Linked DNA regions of Homo sapiens: region 1 is linked to region 2. Evidence: fine-mapped expression QTL. A gene starts in region 2. The other region holds a variant in brackets. All regions are shown on one strand. Distances are between the middles of the regions.

The links. PIP is the estimated chance that this variant, and not a neighbour inherited with it, causes the effect.
Region 1: its variant is fine-mapped to the expression of FBLN1 in prefrontal cortex (ROSMAP, PIP 0.93).

What each region holds. Positions count from the first base shown.
Region 1 is chr22:45,520,660-45,530,497 of GRCh38, reverse strand. FBLN1 (fibulin 1) reads right to left here. Exons shown (of 17, transcript NM_006486.3): 3 at 4,820-4,955; 4 at 2,489-2,651. Among named protein-coding and RNA genes, the nearest start is that of FBLN1, 23 kb to the right of the region's middle. RefSeq lists enhancers at 1,409-1,959, 5,700-6,251. The variant T/CTCTT (reference allele first, on the strand shown) is at 5,371.
Region 2 is chr22:45,498,701-45,508,538 of GRCh38, reverse strand. It overlaps FBLN1 (fibulin 1), which reads right to left and starts at 5,656. Exons shown (of 17, transcript NM_006486.3): 1 at 5,475-5,656. The coding sequence starts at 5,553. It overlaps LOC105373066 (a long non-coding RNA gene), which reads left to right and starts at 7,552. Exons shown (of 3, transcript XR_938305.2): 1 at 7,552-7,743; 2 at 9,710-9,775. RefSeq lists enhancers at 1,975-2,586, 2,587-3,200, 3,201-3,814, 3,815-4,428, 4,429-5,042 and 1 more.

The sequences.
Region 1 (9,838 bases), 22 kb before region 2:
TTCTGCATGGCCCCCAGGAAACATACAGTGGGTCCATGGCACTGGTAGCAGTGGGAGGAAGGTGCGGCTGTGAAGACAGGAAGCCCTCCCAGAGGAGGGAGCATGCGAGGATAGTCTGGGGCAAGGACTGAAGCAGATAAAAGACGGAGAGATAAAACATCTAACATCTGGAGCTGCAGAAAAGCCCAGAGACTGCTCACGCTGCAGACATAAATCAGTGAAAATCCACCCCCGAGATGCAGGAGAAATCCTCCACCAGCAGGAATGGTTTGGGTTTGTTTAAAGTGAAAATGTCGTCTCTGATTTCAAAAGCCAAGGAATGAGGCAGAATGCGGCCCCAATCCCTCTTGATGACTGTAACATCTGAAATCATCTCAGTGGCATCCATGGGGCCCTGGACTTGAAAAACTAAGAACAATAAGTGAAAGATGAGTCCCGGGTGACCCGGGTCCTCTGTGACCAGGGGCCCTACAGCCTGGACTTGAAAACCTAAGAACAAGAAGTGAAAGGTTCCGTGTCACCCAGGACCCTACAGCCATTACCTTGACTTAGAGACTACAGGTCTGAGGGTTCTTCCCTTTCGCCCCTTCCGGCACCTCCCCACCTCTTTATTTATTTTATTATTTTTTTTGAGACTGAGTCTCGTTCTGTCACCCAGGCTGGAATGCAATGGCGCCATCTCGGCTCACTGCAACCTCCGCCTCCCAGGTTCAAGCGATTCTCCCTGCCTCAGCCTCCCAAGTAGCTGGGATTACAGGCGCCCGCCACCACGCCCAGCTAATTTTTGTATTTTTAGTAGAGACAGGGTTTCCCCATGTTGGCCAGGCTAGTCTCGAACTCCTGACCTCAGGTGATCCGCCTGCCTCGGCCTCCCAAAGTGCTGGGATTACAGGCGTGAGCCACCGTGCCCAGCTCACACCTCTTTTATTTTTTAAGAGAGTGGGGGCAAAGCTCAGAGAGAGGAGGGAACAGGCCGAAAACTACACAGCAAGCTTGGCCCAGGCGGAGTCCTGCCTTCTTCCAGGTTAATTCTGTTACAGCACAAGAAACCGTGGCCTAAGTGTAAGAGGCTACTGGACAGCCACAAAGTCTCCTGAACCCTGTAACTGAACCACACAGAAATGCAGGGCGAGGACACAGAACGGGGGGGCACACAGCTGAGAGCGCTCTTGAAGCTGCTCTTGGGGTCACATGCCCCTTTGCTGAGTAAGTGTCTATGATTTGACAGAGCATAGCCAGCTATTAGCCAGCGATGGCCCCCAGCTGCTCGCCCATACATCGTCAGCTCCAGATGGAGAGGGCACTGGCCAGGAGGTGGAAGGCCAGGCTCTCCCTCCTCCACGTGTCGGCTGTGCGATCTTCAGCATCAGACCCTCACCCAAGAAGTGGGAGCAAGGCCAGCCACCCATGCTGCCCCGGGCAGCTGAAGGGACAAGGGCAGATGGTGAGGGCAGACATTTATGGGGCCAGGTGCTCTACCCAACCCTTGACACCCAATCTCGCACTCCATCCTCCCAGCACCTGATGAAGTAGGACTGCAACTATCCCCACTTCCCAGATGAGGGGACCAAGGTACACATTAGGACCCGGATGGGAGCACAGATTTGTCCGATCCCAGACTCCAAGCACTCAGCGTCACTCCAGGACAGCGGCTTTCAGATAAGGTCACAAACATGAATGGCTCCGACAACCGGAGTTAGTCCGTGCTGAGTTAAGGCAATGGTGACACGGATGCACGTGTTACCTGTAATGGTTCATCGTAAGTGTCAATTGGGCTGGGGTATGGTACTCAAATATTTAGTCAAACACTAGCCTGGATGTTGCTGTGAAGCTATATTTTAGAGATTAATATTGGCCAGGCACGATGGCTCACACCTGTAATCCTAGCACTTTGGGAAGCTGAGGCAGGTGGATTACCTGAGGTCAGGAGTTCCAGATCAGCCTGGCCAACATGGTGAAACCCCATCCCTACTAAAAATACAAAAATTAGCCAGGTGTGGTAGTGTACACCTGTAATCCCAGCTACTCGGGAGGCTGAGGCACAAGAATCACTTGAACCCGGGAGGCGGAGGTTGCCGTGAGCCAAGATCACACCACTGCACTGCACTCCAGCCTGGGTGACAGAGAGAGATTCTGTCTCAAAAAAAAAAAGAGATTAACATGTAAGTCTGTTGATGCTGAGAAAAGCAGATCATCTTCATACCATGGGTGGGCCTCACTCAATCAGCAGAAGGCCTTCAGAGAAAAAAGACTGGCCTCCCCGGGAAAGGCGGCGTTCTGCCAGCACACTGCCTTTGAACTCCAGCTGCAATGCCCCTCCTTCCCTGGGGCTCCAGCCTGAAGGCCTGCCCTGCAGATTTTGGACTTGCCAGCCCCACGATCACATGAGCCAAGTCCTTAAAATCTCTCTCTCTCCACTCTCGCTCTATATACACATCCCGGAGAACCTTAATACACTGCTCATTAGGGAAGGAAGGGGGAAAGTTACCCGTTTCTTGGAGGCCCCCGACATCCAAATCTCCGGTCTCCTGGCTCTTGACACAGCATGCCTGGAAGACCTGTCCACACTGGTAGCCAACCATGAGGCTGTACTCGCAGCTCTGGCCCTGGGCCTGGGCCGCCCTCCCCAGCAGACAGCAATGGCAGCACCTCTGCAAACACAGGTGGAGATCCCAGATGGAGGAGCGGGCAGACAGCCCAGCGGGGTCCACGAGAGGCCTCAGGGGAGGCCTCTCTGAGCCCCCTGTCCACACAACCTGTAGAGTGATGACTCAAGTCTGGCTTAGATACCACTTCTAAATGTCAGCAACAAATAGCAAAGCAAGGCCATCCCCCTACTCCAAATCATCTAGGTCCCAGTTTTGAAAGGAAGCTTAAAGGGCCTGGCATCCACCTCCCCTCCCCACCCCAACATGCAATTGCACCCCTCAACATCCCTGCCCCGCCCAGAGACCACCCGGCTCTGCTCGCACACATCCAGGAAGAGGGAGCTTCTTATAGCACCATGCACCAGCTCCAAAGTTCTGTTCCTTTTGCATGGTCTGAGATTTCTCTACCATGCCCGGAAAAATGACACACATGCATGCTGCCTCTCCGTTTTTGAGTTAGAGGGGTTCTGGCAGCAGGAATTGCACCGTGCATTTGAAAGCACAGGAACTTCAAGACGAGTCATCAAGCAAGGTCAAAGGACAGGGTGGCTGTCTGCCACCTGGGCCCAGGTCCCAATAGTTACTTCCAAGTCCCTGTGGCCTCACACCTGAGTCCCAGAAGCAACATTTGCCCTGACACACGAAAAGCCCTGCTTCAGTCTTTATTAAGTGGTTATCCTAAGAGGAGCACAGAACTTTCTAAACAGTCCCCAGCAGGAGCCAGGAGGTGTAGCTTTGCCTCAGTTATGTGGCACTGATGGGTCTTCCAGGCTGCTTATTCTACGCCCTCCGCTGCCAGAAAGTGTAGGGAGCATCAGTCACCTCATCCATCTTTTGGGGTGTGAGTAATCCTTCCTGGAAACACAAGTCGCTCATCTGCCAGAGAGATCTGTTCCCACTCCTGCTAGAATGTTCTGTGCTTTTTCCACACCTCTCAAGTCTGGGGACATGGGCACAGCTGTGTGCCGGACCGACGGCATCTGCAAGGCCCAGCCCTGCATTGGGTGTTGGGTGGGAGGGTGCGGGGGCAGTCATGAAACGCCCAAAGTCCTGGTTCCCAGGCACCCCCACCATCACCCCACCCAGCTCTCTCCTGGGCCAGAGCCCTGCCCTGTGAAAGCCCACACAGGCCAAGGTGGGCAGGGGACTCGGGACCCCCAACTCCTCCACACGGAGTCCCTCCACAGCCCAATCTATGTGGAGAATCCCCACAAAGGAGCTCCCACACCCTCTCCTGGAATCCAGACTTCATTCAGATTCTTGTTTCTTAAAATTATTCCATCACCTTCCTAAAAGGAACGGGAAGCTTCTTCCAGGGAATGCATTTTCGTCATCTGGCACCTCCAACAGAAGCCCAGCTTCCAAACCCGAGCTCCTCCAGGCCCAAGTTCCTCCTGGCCGGGCTTGTTTTCCTTGCTGGCTGGGTGGTAAGGGAGGGATGGCCTGGACACCTTGGGTTTACTGCCTGTAGGCAATGCTGTCAGGCACCTTTCCACCTCTTGCAAAGACACAGCCCTTCCACGGCCATAGCGGTCCTGAGTGACCTGCTAGCACGTAGGGTCCTAGGAGCACTCAGGGAAGAGGACTATGCCATTTATTCACAGCTTACCTTCAGGGCAGGATCCCGTCTGGGTCCCTGACAGGACTGCAGAGAGGCCATTTTGGAGGCTGGGCCTCTCTGAACCTCAGTTTCCTCTTTTAGGGTCGTTATAGAGGTCAGATCTTATCAGAGGTCTTAGTGAGGGCCCATTTTTACCTCTGGACCCTGACGAGTCTGTGGGTAGAGAAGCCTGAGAGCCTCCTGGGTAGGGTGAGGGTGCCGACCCTGAATTGAGAAGAAGATTCTGGAAGCCCAGGAGGAGCCCTGCTTTGACTTCTGCATCTGCCCAATGCCTGGAGACAGGCGGTTCTCAGGGCAAGGCCAGCTCACTTCACCCCCCGGCCTCGTGGGAGACTCGGCCCCAGGTGTCCTCCGGGGTTTACGGCTACAGTGGAGGGGGAGAAACAGTGGGGTTTTCCACCTCCCTCCTGGCCCAGGAACCCCCAGCTGCTCACAAAGAAAGGTGGCCTGAGGCAGGGAGCGCTGACAGACAGTGCCGCTTGGCTGGGAGGGCCTGGGTCTGCCGACTAGTGGGGACGGGCAGCGACCCCACATGGTCTTTGGCTCTCACCTTCACAAATGTGGCCTCCAGGCTGGCGTTGTCACCGTGGGGCGTGGCACAGCGGTCCTGCTCGTTGGCCAGGCTGATGCCCGTGGCACAGTGCAGCTCCTCCAGCTGGCTGTGGCAGCACTGCTCCTGCACCATCCTGTGGGTGAGGGGTGGGCTGGGCCAAGGCTCTGTGCGCAGGGGGCCCAGGGCACGAGATCCTCGGGGGTGGGGGTGCTCTCACCTTTGAGCCTCCCCTTCCCTGCTCCCACAGACACAGAGAGAGAAATACACAGTGCCCCAGTGGCATACAGAAGGAGCTCAATTAGCATTTAGTTAGAAAGGCTTGGCCGGGCACAGTGGTTCACACCAGTAATGCCAGCACATTGAGAGGATGAGGTGGGAAGACCAGTTGAGCCCAGGAATTCGAGACCAGTCTGGGCAACATGGTAAGACCCTCTTTCTTTCTTTTCTTTTCTTTTTCTCTCTTTCTTTCTTTCTCTCTTTCTCTCTCTCTCTCTCTTTCTCCCTTTCTCTCTTTCCTTCTCTTCCTCTTTCTTTCTTTCTCTCTGTTT[T/CTCTT]TCTTTCTCTCTCTCTCTCTCTTTCCCTTTCTCTCTTTCTCTCTTTCTTTCTTTCTTTGAGATGGAGTTAGGCTGGAGTGTAGTAGTGTGATCTCAGCTCACTGCAGCCTCTGCGTCTCGGGTTCAAGCGATTCTCCTGCCTCAGCCTCCCCAGTAGCTGGGACTACAGGCATGCGCCACCACACCTGGCTAACTTTTCTATTTTTGTAGAGACGGGGTTTCACTGTGTTGGCCAGGCTGGTCTGGAACTCCTGAGCTCGGGTGATCCCCCCGCCTCAGCCTCCCGAAGTGCTGGGATTACAGGCGTGAGCTACCATGCCTGGCCTCTTTTTTTAAAAAAAGAAAGACAGAATGTAGTATGGTGTCTGGAGTCAGAGCCAGGAGGCCCAGTTTTGTCACCAGAGTGGCCGCGTCACTCCTCTGAGCACTAGGCTTCACCCGCACAATGTTCCTGCTGATTTGAAAACCAAAAAGCGGCGGGGGGCTGACTCTGGGCCCAACCTTCCACCCCTTTATCAGGTCAAGCTCTTCTCAGTGCTCGTTCCATCTTCCAGGCTCAGAGCAAACAGCTTCTGAGAGTCCTGTTGGGTAGCCTGCCCAAGGCCCCAGAGGGAGGGATGGTGGCTGCAGTGGCACCTAGCTGCAAAGCCCACACCTCCCAGCCCTGCCGGGGCTCTGGGGAGAGGTCCTCGACCTGCCAAAATCAGCTCCTCCAACACAACCATGAGGCTGTGACAGCTAGGGGCTGGCGTGGGCGGGCTCCAAAGGCAATGAGCAGGAGAGGAGTGTGTCACGGGTGGCCCCTGACCAGACCCAAAATAACCCCAGCTCCAGCCAAAGCCAGCAAGGGCAGGAAGAGCCACCCAACTCGTGCCTCCAGGAGAGAGGGTGGGGGCCTCCCCAGCTTCCCTGCACTGCCAGCCAGGCCACCTCTGCACAAAAATGGCAGCTGCCAGTGCACCTTCCCCCAACCTTCCCTGGGGGACTGGAGGTCTGAACCCGGCTGCCCGTGTGTCTCAAAACTGCCTTCAGGCTCCAGGATGGAATTACCGAGCTGAGCTAGCACACATTTCACTCATGCTTTCGGTGGATTTGCAAATAACGGCGTTTCACTAAACTGCCAGAGCGAGCCACCAGCCATGCGTGCATCCATTCAAAAACTATTGGCTAGCCAGAAAATCACAAGTGTTGGTGAGGATGTGGAGATGCTGGAACCCGTGTGCATTGCTGGTGGGAATGGAAAAGGGTGCAGCTGCCGTGGAGCACAGTTCCTCCCAAAATTAAAAATAGAATAATCATAGGACCCAGCAATTCCACTTCTGGGTAAATATCCAAAGAACTGAAGCATGGTTTCAAACAGATACTTGCACACCCATGTTCACAGCAGTTTGTTGTTGTTTTTTGTTTTGTTTTGTTTTGTTTTTGAGATGGAGTCTTGCTCTGTCGCCCAGGCTGGAGTGCAATGTTGCGATCAGGGCTCACTGCAACCTCCGCTTCCTGGGTTCAAGTGATTCTCCTGCCTCAGCCTCACCGGCAGCTGGGATTACAGGCACCTGCCACCATGCCCAGCTAATTTTTTATATTTTTAGTAGAGATGAGATCTTGCCATGTTGGCCAGGATGGTCTCAAACGCCTGACCTCAAGTGATCTGCCCGCCTCAGCCTCCCGAAGTGGTGGGATTATAGGCGTGAGCCACTGCGCCCGGCCTCACAGCAATATTATTTACAACATCCAAAAGGTGGAAGCAATCAAGTGTCCCAGGCACCTCAGGGTGTCCAGCTGCCTCAGGCTCACCCCCAACACCCCAGCCTCTATCTCATGGCCCCCTCAGCCACCTGGTTACCCTTGTATCTGGTGCTTCCTCCCTGGGACTGGCCGTTGCTGGCTCCACTCCAGCCACCCTGGCCGCCTTGCTGTACACACCCTCTCCTCTGGGCTCTTGCGCTGGCTGTTCCCTCGGCCTGGGATGCTCTTCCCACTTTCCATACTGCCCACGCCCCATTCAGGTCCTGGCACAGTGAGGCCAACCCCACGGCTCTAAAATTATAAACCCACCATGAGCAGAAGCCCCTATGCCTCCCTGTTTCCCCCACGGCACATCCTGCCTTCCTACAAACCATCAGACGGACTTATTACTTTCTTTGCATTCTGCATCCCCTATAGAATGCCGCCTCCACGAGGCCAGGGGACTTGCATATTTCGTTCACCGATTGATCCCCACTCACCAGAACGGAGCCTGGCACCTAGCAGGCTCTCAGTGAGATTTGCAAAATAAAGAAGGGGTTAGAGAAATGCTGGGCTGGAAAATGTCAGCTTGGGACTTGCTTTAGGTTTCACTGGATGTGTCCAGATTCCTCCAAAAGACGCTGAAGGACATGTGGGTTTAATCTAATCCAAAGTTTTAGGTGGATTTAGATCTGGATCCCAAGGAATGTCGGGCCTTGGTGGAGACCTAGAGTCAAGATGATTCATGATGGGAAAACATCAAAGCTGCCATCTTCTGACCACCCCAAACACGTCCTTGTTGAAGCTGCAGGCTGCTTAACCCCTGCTTGGCTACAGCCCATGGTTGCGGAGAGGTCGGCCTCTCCCTGCAGTCCTCTCTGAGCCTCTCACCCACTCAGGGAGCTGATACCCCCTCCTTTGGGCCCTATGGACCCTCAGGGCCTCACACCCTCGACTGCTGCCAGGAGGGCTGGCCTGGGCTTGCCTGCCTGCTCATGGCTTTCATCCTGCCTCTTCCTGAGCATCAAGAACCAATAAAGATTTGTTGAATGAACAAAAACTGATTTTACTTCAGCTGGTGAGCCTCACAGAAAGCCACTTCAAAAGAAGAGAATTTGGCTGGGTGCAGTGGCTCATGCCTGTAATCTCAGCATGTTGGGAGGCTGAGGCGTCCAATCACTTGAAGCCAGGAGTTCGAGACCAGCCTGGCCAACATGGTGAAACTCCCGTCTCTACTAAAAATACCAAAATTAGCCACGCATGGTGACAGGCACCTGTACTCCTAGCTACTCAGGAGGCTGAGGCAGGAGAATCGCTTGAACCCAGGAAGCGGAGGTTGCAGCAAGCTGAGATTGCGCCATTGCACTCCAGCCTGGGCGACAGGGCCAGACTCCATCTCAAAAAGAAAAAAAAAAAGAGCTGGCTAACACAACAGACAAACCAGGTGGTCAGTGATCCCTGTTTTTTGCATCTTTTAAATATCACTATTAAGAGGATTCTTGTAAATAAGATTTGATTTCTGATCTGCCCTATCCCTTCCCTGCCTTCATTAAAAATGAAAATCTATACAAAACTCATTAGAAAATCCCTTCATTAGCATCACTGCACTGCTGGCCACACCCCGCATCCACAGCCCTTGCCTCAACCAGACAGGAGCTCTGACCTCCCCAGGTTGGGGAGGCTGGGGCGGGGTCCTGCTCACCCGAGGACCCCCACAGCCACATCAGTGACTGCCTCCTGAACCCTTATGTGGGCTCCGTCTCACTGTGACCTGGAGCCCAGGCTTGGCCTCTGATTGGCACAGGCTGCGTGGGGTTTGGACCCCAGTGAGAACAGGGTAAAGGGGAAGCACACAGGAAGGGCTGGAGGGCAGCGGACAGCACCTGGGGCCACAGGGCAGTGACGCAGGCAGAGCTGGGCAGCTCAGTAGCTCACTTGAGAGGCAGCCTAGGACAGGTATGTGGCCCCTGGCCTGTGTGTCCACTGGGATGAGTCAATGGGCCTCCTGGGGCCTAAGTGACACAATGGGCCAGTCACTTGCATCTGGTGACCCTGGAGTGGTGTCCTGGGCATTGAGCCACGTGTTTCAGGGACACTGTCATATGGAAACTCACGATACCCAGGAGTCTGGACTTGCACCCGCACTTAAAGAGAGAAGGAATGCCCTCTCAGCCATTCTGATGGTATTTCTTACATTCCAGGAAATCTAATGTATGTCTGAAATTTCTAAGAAGGCAATGTGTTTGTCCTCTGGGACTCAATGGAGATTAAAGATAACCCCAAAATTGGCCGGGCGCAGTGGCTCATGCCCATAATCCCAGCACTTTAGGAGGCCAAGGCAGGAGGATCACCTGAGGTCAGGAGTTCGAGACCAGCCTGGCCAACACGGTGAAACTCTGTCTCTACTAAAAATACAAAAATTAGCCTGGTGTGGTAGTGTGTGCCTGTAATCTCAGGTACTCGAGAGGCTGAGGCAGGAGAATCGCCTGAATCTAGGAGGCGGAGGTTGCAGTGAGCCAAGATCAACATACTGCACCCCAGCCTGGGCAACAGAGCAAGACTCAGTTTCAAAAAATAAAGAAAAAAGATAACTCCAAAATTTACCAAAGACATTAGTGAGTAGAAGTCAGTAATACATTTGATAGTGACTAAAATCCCCATTCACAAGCAAGGCCCAGAGTGCTGCTGAATCTGCGGCCTCAGTTCCTCTGCCTGCACGTTGAGGGGTTACACGGGCTGATGC
Region 2 (9,838 bases):
CTGTAATTCCAGCACTTTGGGAGGCCAAGGTGAGCAGATCACGAGGTCAGGAGTTAGAGACCACTCTGGCCAACATAGTGAAACCCCGTCTCTACTAAGAATACAAAAAATTAGCCAGGCGTGGTGGCGGGCACCTGTAATCCCAGCTACTTGGGAGGCTGAGGCAGGAGGATTGCTTGAACCTGGGAGGCAGAGGTTGCAGTGAGCCAAGATCACACCCCAGACAGTGCAAGACTCCGTCTCAAAAAAAAAGATACGCGAGGCTGTCCAGTGTGCTGGTGAGGGGTATGACGTCAGGGCCAAGCTGCCCAAGCTCAAGTCCTGCTGCTGTCACTTAGCAGCTATGCACCCACAGTCTTGCTACCTGGACTCTCTGGGCCTCCATGTCCCCTCATTGATGAGGGGGACAATGACAGCACCTCCTTTGCAGGGCTAGGGTGAGGGTATAGCTAGGTAACACAGGTGAACTGGGGCAGGGGTGGGGCAGGAAGGTGCTCGAGTCCCCGTGCTGTGGGGAGACCATGCTGGGTGCACAGGTGTTGGATTTCCATCCTCAACCTATCACACGCATCAGTGACTCTCAGAAATGGCACTGTGCAGGTCCATAGAGGAGTTCTAGGCCAAAACAAGAAGCCGGGCTTCATACCTAGGTAGCAAAACTCACAGGACCTTTTCACTCCAGTGGGTAACAGGATCCAAAATGAAAAACAGGGCCAGGCGCAGTGGCTCACGCCTGTAATCCCAACACTTTGGGAGGCCGAGACAGGTGGATCACTTGAGGTCAGGAGTTCAAGACCAGTCTGGCCAACATGGTGAAACTACATCTCTACTAAAAATACAAAAATTAGCCAGGTGTGGTGGCGCATGCCTGTAGTCGCAGCTACTCAGGAGACTGAGGCAGGAGAATGGTTTGAATACAGGAGGTGGAGGTTACAGTGAGCCGAGATCACACTACTGCCCTCCAGCCTGGCCGGCAGAGTGAGACCCCGTCTCAAAAATAATAATAAAAAATAAAAATAGGTTCAAAACAACACTGGATCACCTATTTCGTAGGGCTGCTGAGATGACGACATTGGTTACTAAATGTAAAGCATTTCACCTATAATAATTACCCAGAGGACACTCACATCTTATAGTGAAGGAAACAGAGGCAGAGAGTTTGTGGGTGTCATCAAGATCTCTCCAGACACTTTCAGAATTGGGACCAACACACAGCTTCCTAACCCCCTTCTCATGTTGGCTCCGCACAGTGTAGTAACCCGCAAATAACCTGTAGGAAGCTATGGCGACTGGTGCCTCGCTCCCTCCCACCCCAGCCTCTAGTTAGGACCACTGTGGGGTTAAAGGAGGTGGGGCCCAGCCCAGCTCTAGGCCCAGCCCCAGCCCCGCTCCTCGCTGGGTGACTTGTGGCAGATGACTTAGCCAGTCCTGAGCTCCCCTCCAGCCTGAGGGGGTCTCCTATCCCAGGGAAGTTGACACAGTGGTTCCCCCCTCCCACCCTGTTTACTTATAGGGCCACATGTGAGATCATCACAAGGAAACTGGAACCATATGGGGCCTACGAAAGGATTCATTCATCAAATTGTTATGATTTGCTATTCTGCAAAAGGAAAATCTTGTTGTATAAAATATGCTGGCAAAATAACTACATGCCCTCTTAGAACTGTTCTAATAAACTTCACCTGGAAGGCGGCCCTGACCAGGTGCCCAGTGCTCAGAGCCCGGGCTTAAAGTCTCACCAGGTCAGGGAAGCTGCTGGAGAAGTCTCTAGACAGCACAGTCTCCCCCAGTGGTGAGGAGGGGGTGGAACTGGAAGGAACTGGAAGTGGGTAGAAGGAGGGGGTTTCCCTGGAAGTCTCGTGTTTTCTCTTCCTTCCAGGTATTTGGCCCTGCCATTTCCCCTGCCAGGAACACCCTTTCCCCCATCCTCCCAGCCCTACCCACAGACTTAGCCACTGCCTTTTCCTCCTTAGGTTCCCAGTTTGCATGCCGCTTCCTCCGGGAAGTCTTCCCTGACTCTGCCAGTAGGGCTCAGTTCATTTTTCTGGATCTCCTAGTTGCATGAGGGGGAAAAACTGGGTCTCTCTCCTTTCCTGCCACATCCACAAGTTATAGAGCAGTGTCTGGCACTGAGCTGTCCCTTAGTGAATGAATGACTGAATGGCTAAGAACACCACCTTTCCTGACACGGGTTTGGCACTGACGACTACCAGTCCTATAGCCCCATGGGGCCTTCTGCTCAGCGCCTGGCTGGGAAATTCAGTAGTAGTAGAATGTGCAGAGGCATCTTGGGGAAAACAATTCTGGGGTATTGGCAGAATTGCGCTCTTCCCGCGCTCCCCTCACATCAAGCCTCATCTCCTCCAAGGAGCCGCCAGGGAGCCCCCAAGGGCTGCGAAGGCTCCTGGTGCCAACACTTCCTAGAGAAGGGGACAACAGGAATAATAGCTAACATTAATAACAGGGCTGCCAGCCGGCACGGTGGCTCACACCTGTAATTCCAGCACTTTGGGAGGCCGAGGTAGGTGGATCACCTGAGGTCAGGAGTTCGAGACTAGCCTGGCCAAGATGGTGAAACCCCATCTCTACTAAAAGTACAAAAATTAGCTGGGCGTGATGGGCGCCTGCAATCCCAGCTGCTGGGGAGGCTGAAGCAGGAGAATCGCTTCAACTCGGGAGGCGGAGGTTGCAGTGAGTCGAGATCATGCCATTGCACTCCAGCCTGGGCGACAAGAGCGAAACTCCGTCTCAAAAATAAAATAAAATAATAATAATAATAATATAGCTGCCATGGTAGACACTATCCTATGTTCTCTCTCTTAATCCTCAAGACAACCTAAGTAGGTTTTTGTTCCCTTCATTTTATAAATGAGAAAACCACCAAACCATCTCATGGCTTTTTCTGATGCAAACTGATTTCTAGTCTCACAAGGCCCGTGGAGCCCTCCAGGACCTGAAGATGAGTCAGCCGCGTGCCCCTACTCCTGCCCTACACACCTAACAGGGGTGGCAAATGCAGCCCTGAGTTGGGGGGCACTCAGCAGGGCCAGGAGCGGGGCGTGAGCCAGAGCTGTGGGTGCTGCAGGAGAGGCCCCAGCCCTGACCCCCATGGCACAGAGTCTCATCTTCATGCATTCAGTGCCCTGGCCCCCACCTCCTGACTGGGAAACTTCCAGGAGTGGCGGCACAGACCACACGTTTTCAAGCCAAGTCCTCCCTGGCCTTTGTTCTCCCTCCCAACTTTCTTTTAATCAGTCGGAAACGCTGCCCGGCTGCAGCCAGAGGCCAAGAAAGCCTTGGAGAAAACACAATCGTCTTTTCCTAACACCTCCTCCTCTCCACTCCCTCCCACCCAGCTCTCAGTAAAGCCCAACGGGACGGACAGACACAGGACAGACAGGCGGCTCCTCTCGGCCGTTTGGCAAGAAAGATCAGCGCCCTTCTCCATTTAAGCGGCCGTCGCCAAAGGAGTTTCTGCAGATCAGCTAACAGGCTCACCATCTGCGGCCCCACAGCTCTCTGAGAGCAGGGGCGGTGCCACTTGTGGCCTTACATACAGGGCTTCGGGGGCCTCACAGCTGCAGATAGGGGCCAGGCAGTCTTCAAAAGCCCCTTCCCAAACTGTACCAAATTAAACCTGTTGAAACTCAAAGAGACTTCTCCCCAAAAGAAACAAAAGGCCCACAGGACATCCAGCTGCTTTTATCGAAGTGTGCAATTAGGAGGCTTTTTTAAACCCTTCCAATTACAAACTTCTCTGTGGCTCAGCAGTGAGCCACACTGGGCCCGCAAGTCCTGGGGTGTTCATTCAGTCACACACACATAGGGAGAAATTGTTCGCAAACCGCAGACAGAAAAGAACAGTGAGAGGGAACGCAGAGACTCCGGGGCCAGGGAGAGTTTTACCACGCCTTCTCTCAGGCCCTCAGCTTCCTCATCGACACAATCGGGGCCTCTGAGGCTCCTTCCTTTTCTAACAGGAGTCTCGGATGTCCCACCCACCCATCACCCAGGGCCCCTCGGGGTTTTCCCTCCAGCTGGCAGCCACCCGGCCTGCTGCTTGCTGGAATGCCCTCTTCCCGCGCTCCCCTTACATCAAGCTCCATCTCTTCTAAAGAGCCTCCAGGGAGCCCCCAGGGGCTGCGAAGGCTCCTGGTGCCAACACTGAGCTCTGCGCCTCCCCACACCATCTCCAACCCCACGAGGTGCCCAGGCCGTGCCCAGCACCGCCTGAACAATCAGAGCTCCACAGGGCTCTGCTGCAGCCAGCCAGTCAAGAAAGCTCTGTAGAGCTCAGCTCCCAGCCTCCCCTCCCCCTCCAGCCCCCTTCAGCCCCCTTCCTGGAATCCCCCAGTGAGCATTAGTTGGGACAAGCGACCTTTTGACTAACAAAGGCGGTCACCAGAGGTTAAAAGGAACTCAACTAAACCAGGGATTAAGACTCGGATTCTGAGGGTGGTCTAGGGCACTCCCCTGGACCTGGGCCACTGGAGAAACAAAGACGCCAGGAGTGCCGGGCCTGGCTAGTGGCTCTGAGAAGCCACGGGTCAGCAGAGAGGTCACAGGTCATAGCTCTGCCGCCCAGCAGCTGCTCTGATCAGAGGACCTCGTGGCAGTCCCCCCAGGGACCAGGCCTTGAGGGTTAGAGGGGAGAAAAGCGCGGGCTGGGTGGGCACTGTCCCGGAGCTGTCAGTCCCAGAGTTGGGGCCTAAGGTCTGGGCCATCGATCAGATCTGCTCTTGGAAAACTCCATCCCCCTTGCCGTTGGTGGAAGTGACCAGTCCCCAGTCCCCGCTGAGCACCGAGCCCGGCAGAACCACTGCCTTGGGCCCTCTGTCCCGGGAGGGAGGCAGGGAGGAGGTGGCCAGGTCCGCATCCCCTCCATCCTCCCAGCTACGCCCCAAAAACCTCCAGGCTGCTCCCTGGCTTTCTCATTTCTTCCTCTCCAGCCCCTATCCCAGGACCGCTAGTGTCTCCTGGGGAAAAGACTGCTTCCCACCCTCCAGGCTCAAGTTTCACATCCGCAAGCTGGGTACAACAGCTCCTACCTGGGGGTGGAGGCGGGAAGCGGTGAGGAAAGATAGCCGAGGGCGCTTCCAGCGTCAAGTGCAAGGCGCCCTGGGCTCGGTAACCCCCAGCCAGCGTCCCCCAGCCCAGCTAGCGCCCCTGAACCCCCAGGGCCCGGGATGCGGCCCCCGGAGCCGGCTGGATTTGCTAGGACTGGGGTAGGACGGTGTGTTTGAGGGGTGGGGGAATCCGGTTTTGAAACAAGTCCCCAGGCCGGGGAGGAGATGAGGACCGGAGCTGGCCGTGGGGGAGGGGGGCGTCGCCGAGGCCTCGGCGCTGACAGTCCGGGGGCGCCGCGCAGGGCAACGCACGGACTCCGAGTCCCCGTGGTTCCGAAACTCGCAGGGAGCGCGAGGCCGAGGGGGTCGGGACCCTAAGCTGGGGCGGCGGACCCGGGACGCCCCTACCTCCGGCCGCCAGCAGCGCAAGGCCGCCGAGCAGCAGCAGCGGAAGCGGGACCCGGCGCGACGGCGCGGCGCGCTCCATGGGCGGCGGGCGACGGGCGGTGGGCGGCGGCGGACAAAGGCGCGGGCGCGGTCCTGGGGCAGCGGCGCGGGCTCCACGCTCCGGCCGAGCCTCGGCAGCCAACGCTGGGCCAGGGCCGCGCCGTTCAATTATCCCGCCCGGGAGGAGGGCGCGGCGGAGGCGGGGCCGCGGGTCTCCTGGTCCTCCCTCCCCGGCGCCCCCTGCCGGGACCCTCCCTCCCCGGACCCCGGCTGCGAGGGGCGCGCGCCCACGGCTGGGGGCGAGGGCCTGGATCCCAGACTTCCCCGGAGGGGGCACAGAGGGGGCGCCTTCGGGCCGGATGCCCCCAGTCCTATCCCCCAACACTCCGTGAAACCCGATCCCCTCCTCCCCCCACCCCCTCTCGAGGGGAGGGCTCGGGATCAAAGGTTATCCCCGCCCGACTCCGCGCGGAGGAGCGGGGACCCGGGCCTGCAGTCGGAGGCCCGGCTGCTGGGGGGCACTGGGGCAGGCCTTACCGCCAACCCCGCACCCTCGGCCGGGAGGCTGCAGGTCGGTGGCTAACCCCAGGCGTGTCCCGGGATGGGACCCGACTCTGCCCTCAGAGACAGGGACAGTCGGGCCAGGCCAACAAACAACCAAAATCCCAACGTGTGCTGGGCTCACCCGGGACACCAGGGCCGGAGGGAGAGACCCGGGAAGTCACCGAGGCTGCAGGGGAGGCAGCTTTGGCGCTGGGCCTGCGGGAGCCTCTTGTATAGGAATTCATAGCTACCGGGGTTACTGAGGATGAGTTAGGCTTTGGAACCACAAGTAGATTTATTTTCCAAAGAAGAAGAATAAAATGGTGCAGGTGAAGATGCGGAGGAACTGGATGAGACGCATAGGAACGCCACTGGGCAGCTCAAAGCGGTGTTCCTGTGAGTTCACCATGGACCCCTTGAGCCACCGACGCCCCGCCCAGCCTTACACTCAGCAGAAACGCATACAACATGTGCTCCAAAAGACAGAAAGACATGTAGCCGCACATTCATAATTCCTCCAATTGGGAAGCCTAGCGTCATCAAGGCAGATGAATATCGTGGAGTATTCGGGCTTAGGAGCACGACAAACGGAACAGGAGTGAATGATCCGCAACTCACATAACGGGTAAATCTCACAGACGTAAGTCAGAGTAATAGAGTCAGCCACAAAGGAACACTCGCTGCATGATTCCATTTACATAAAAGGCAAGAACAGGCCGGTGGCGGTGGCTCACACCTGTAATCCCAGCACTTTGGGAGGATGAAGTGGGCGGATTGCCTGAGGTCAGGAGTTCGAAACCAGCCTGGCCAACATGGTGAAACCCTGTCTCTACTAAAAATAAAAATAAAAATAAATTAGCCAGGCATGGTGGTGCACACCTGTAGTCCCAGCTACTCGGGAGGCTGAGGCAGGAGAATCGCCTGAACCCGGGAGACGGAGGTTGCAGTGAGCCGAGATCTCACCACTGCACTCCAGCCTGGGCGGCGGAGTGAGACTCCGTCTCAAAAAAAAAAAAAAAAAAAAAAAAAGGCAAGAACAGTTCAGAGGTCAGGAGAGTGGTGATCCTGGAGTGGGAGCGTGCTGGGCTTTCGGGGGCTGGTTAGGTTCAGCTTTCTTACTCTGGGTATTGGTTACAAGGTTGGGCTCAGTTTGTGAGAATTTATTGAGCTGTTCATTTATGGTACGTGCCCTTTTCTGAATACATGTTGTTTCTTTCTGTTTTTTTGAGATGGTGTTTTGCTTTTGTTGCCCAGGCTGGAGTGCAGTGGCGCAATCTCAGCCCACTGCAACCTCCACCTCCCGGGTTCAAGCGATTCTCCTGCCTCAGCCTCCTGAGTAGCTGGGACTACAGGCATGCACCACCACGCCTGGCAAATTTTGTATTTTTAGTAGAGACGGGGTTTCTCCGTGTTGGTCAGGCTGGTCTTGAACTCCCGACATCAGGTGATCCACCCGCCTTGTCCTCCCAAAGTGCTGAGATTACAGGCGTGAGTCACCGTGCCCGGTCACATGTTAAATTTTAAAATGAAAAACAAAAGGACAAGAACTCATCTCCCCACAGGGTGTCTTATAAGTTTGAAGTTTGCAGAGAGCCCAGGAAAGCTTACCAAGGGGACCAGCATGCTCACGCCTCTGAGGTTAAGGAGGCCCCTCAGGAAGAGGTGACATGCGACTGGCCAGTGAAAGGTGAGCAGAGGTGGGAAGGGTTTCCTTGGTGGTGCCAGCTTTCCTGATGTCTCTGCAAAAGTTTGGAGGCACCAGAGATCCTGGTCCGTTTTGACTTTGGATGGGGTGGGGTGCGGAAACAGCACATCAGCAGATGGCCCGAGGGAGGCATTTCTGAGTTGGAACAGGTTGGGAACTCATTACTACTTTGGTATTAACTTAATTCGTTTAAGCCATCGGAGAATGGGGTGCCCTGGAAGGAGTCTAGATGACTAAGGGAAGGTGGTGGAGGGCGAAGGGGGAACCAGGGGACCTGGGGGATTCAGAAAGAAGACGTAGAAACAGGCAGAGGGGTAGAAGGAAACCAGGAGAAGGCAATATCCAAGAAGGAATCAAAAAGTGATTCTGGGCAGGGCGTGGTGGCTCATGCCTGTAATCCCAACACTATGGGAGGCCGAGGTGGGTGGATCACTTGAGGTCAGGGGTTCGAGACCAACCTGGCCAATATGATGAAACCCCATCTCCACTAAAAATACAAAAATTAGCTGGGCATCGTGGTGCATGCCTGTAGTCCCAGCTACTTGGGAGACTGAGGCAGGAGAGTTGCTTGAACCCTGAAGGCGGAGGTTGCAGTGAGCCAAGATTGTACCACTGCACTCCAGCCTGGGTGATAGCAAAAAAAAAGTGATTCTGGCTGGGACTGCCCAGTGTGGCCCAGTGCTCAGTGAAGCCAGGACTGAGAAGTCCCAATGGGGATGGAGCAGGTGGCCGCTGGCGATGTGACCGGGGCCCTTTCTGGGGATGGGGAGGGAGTGGCTGTGTTGTGGGTGGCTGAGAAGGGGGTGGGGATGAGGAAACAGGGACAGTAGGAGGAGGTGACTCCTACATTCAGCTAGGCACTGACACTGCCCTAGGCAGGCAGAGGGACTGCTGGGAGGAGGAGGGCTGAGCCAAGCCTGCAACAGCTGGGGAGGGAGGCCAGAGCCAGGAGAGAGGACATGGAAACCTGGCCTCTCCCAGCCTTTCCTGAAGCTTCAAGAGCTTACTCCTGTTCTGAGGCACAGCCCCCACCATTTTTTTTTTTTTTTTTTTTTTTTGAGGCAAGTCTCACACTGTCACCCAGGCTGGAGTGCAATGCCACGATCTTGGCTCACTGCAACCTCTGTCTGCCGGGTTCACGCAATTGTCCTGCCTCAGGCTCGGGGGTAGCTGGGATTACAGGCACACACCATCAAACCCAGCTAATTTTTTGTATTTTTAGTAGAGACGGGGTTTCACTGTGTTGGTCAAACTGGTCTCGAACTCCTGACCTTGTGATCCGCCTGCCTCAGCCTCCCAAAGTGCTAGGATTACAGGCGTGAGCCGTGGCGCCCAGCCAAGGCGCCCCCTTTTTAGGCACTCACTCTAGTCCTCATCCCAGGCCTGTCCTCCATGGCCTCTCCACATCCTCTTGTCCCTGTGGCTGGTGACTTGGAAAGCCAGGCACTGGGTGTCAGGGAAGTAGGCACCACCATGGACCCCTATCCCCCAGGACAAGCTAGAGGTCCTGACAGCCTGGGACAGGGTCTGAGGCCAGACCACCTGGGTTCCAATCCAAGCTCGCTACTCTCTGGCTCTGTGGCATTGAGCATTTGACTTCTTGGTACCTTGTTTCCTCATCTGTCACGTGGGGCAAGGATTAGGACTTTGCACTTTGCACGGTCGTGAGAATTGAAGGAGATGCTGACTCTCATCACATAAGCCCCACAGAGAAAACTCTGTAATGTAATCACTGTCAGCTGCTGTGCTGGTGGTGACAGTGATGTGCCTTCAGGACCACACAGGGGAGCACCAGTCCTGACCCCCTCCTCATTCACTGTCTGGCTCTGGGCAAGTCCCTTTCTGGGCCTCAGTTTCCCTATCTGCAAAATGCAGGAGATGGACCAGGATGCTTCTAAGCATGCTTCAGACCCCAAAACCCAGGCTGACTCTCGGCCCCCTTCTCTAGTTCTCAGCACATCCAGCTTCCAGAGGCCCACTGGAAGATCATAGGCCTGAGATTCTTGCAGTCCAGGTGAGCCACACCCAGGTGCTGGGAGAAGAACCCATCATGGGCACGGGCATTCCTGCACATTCT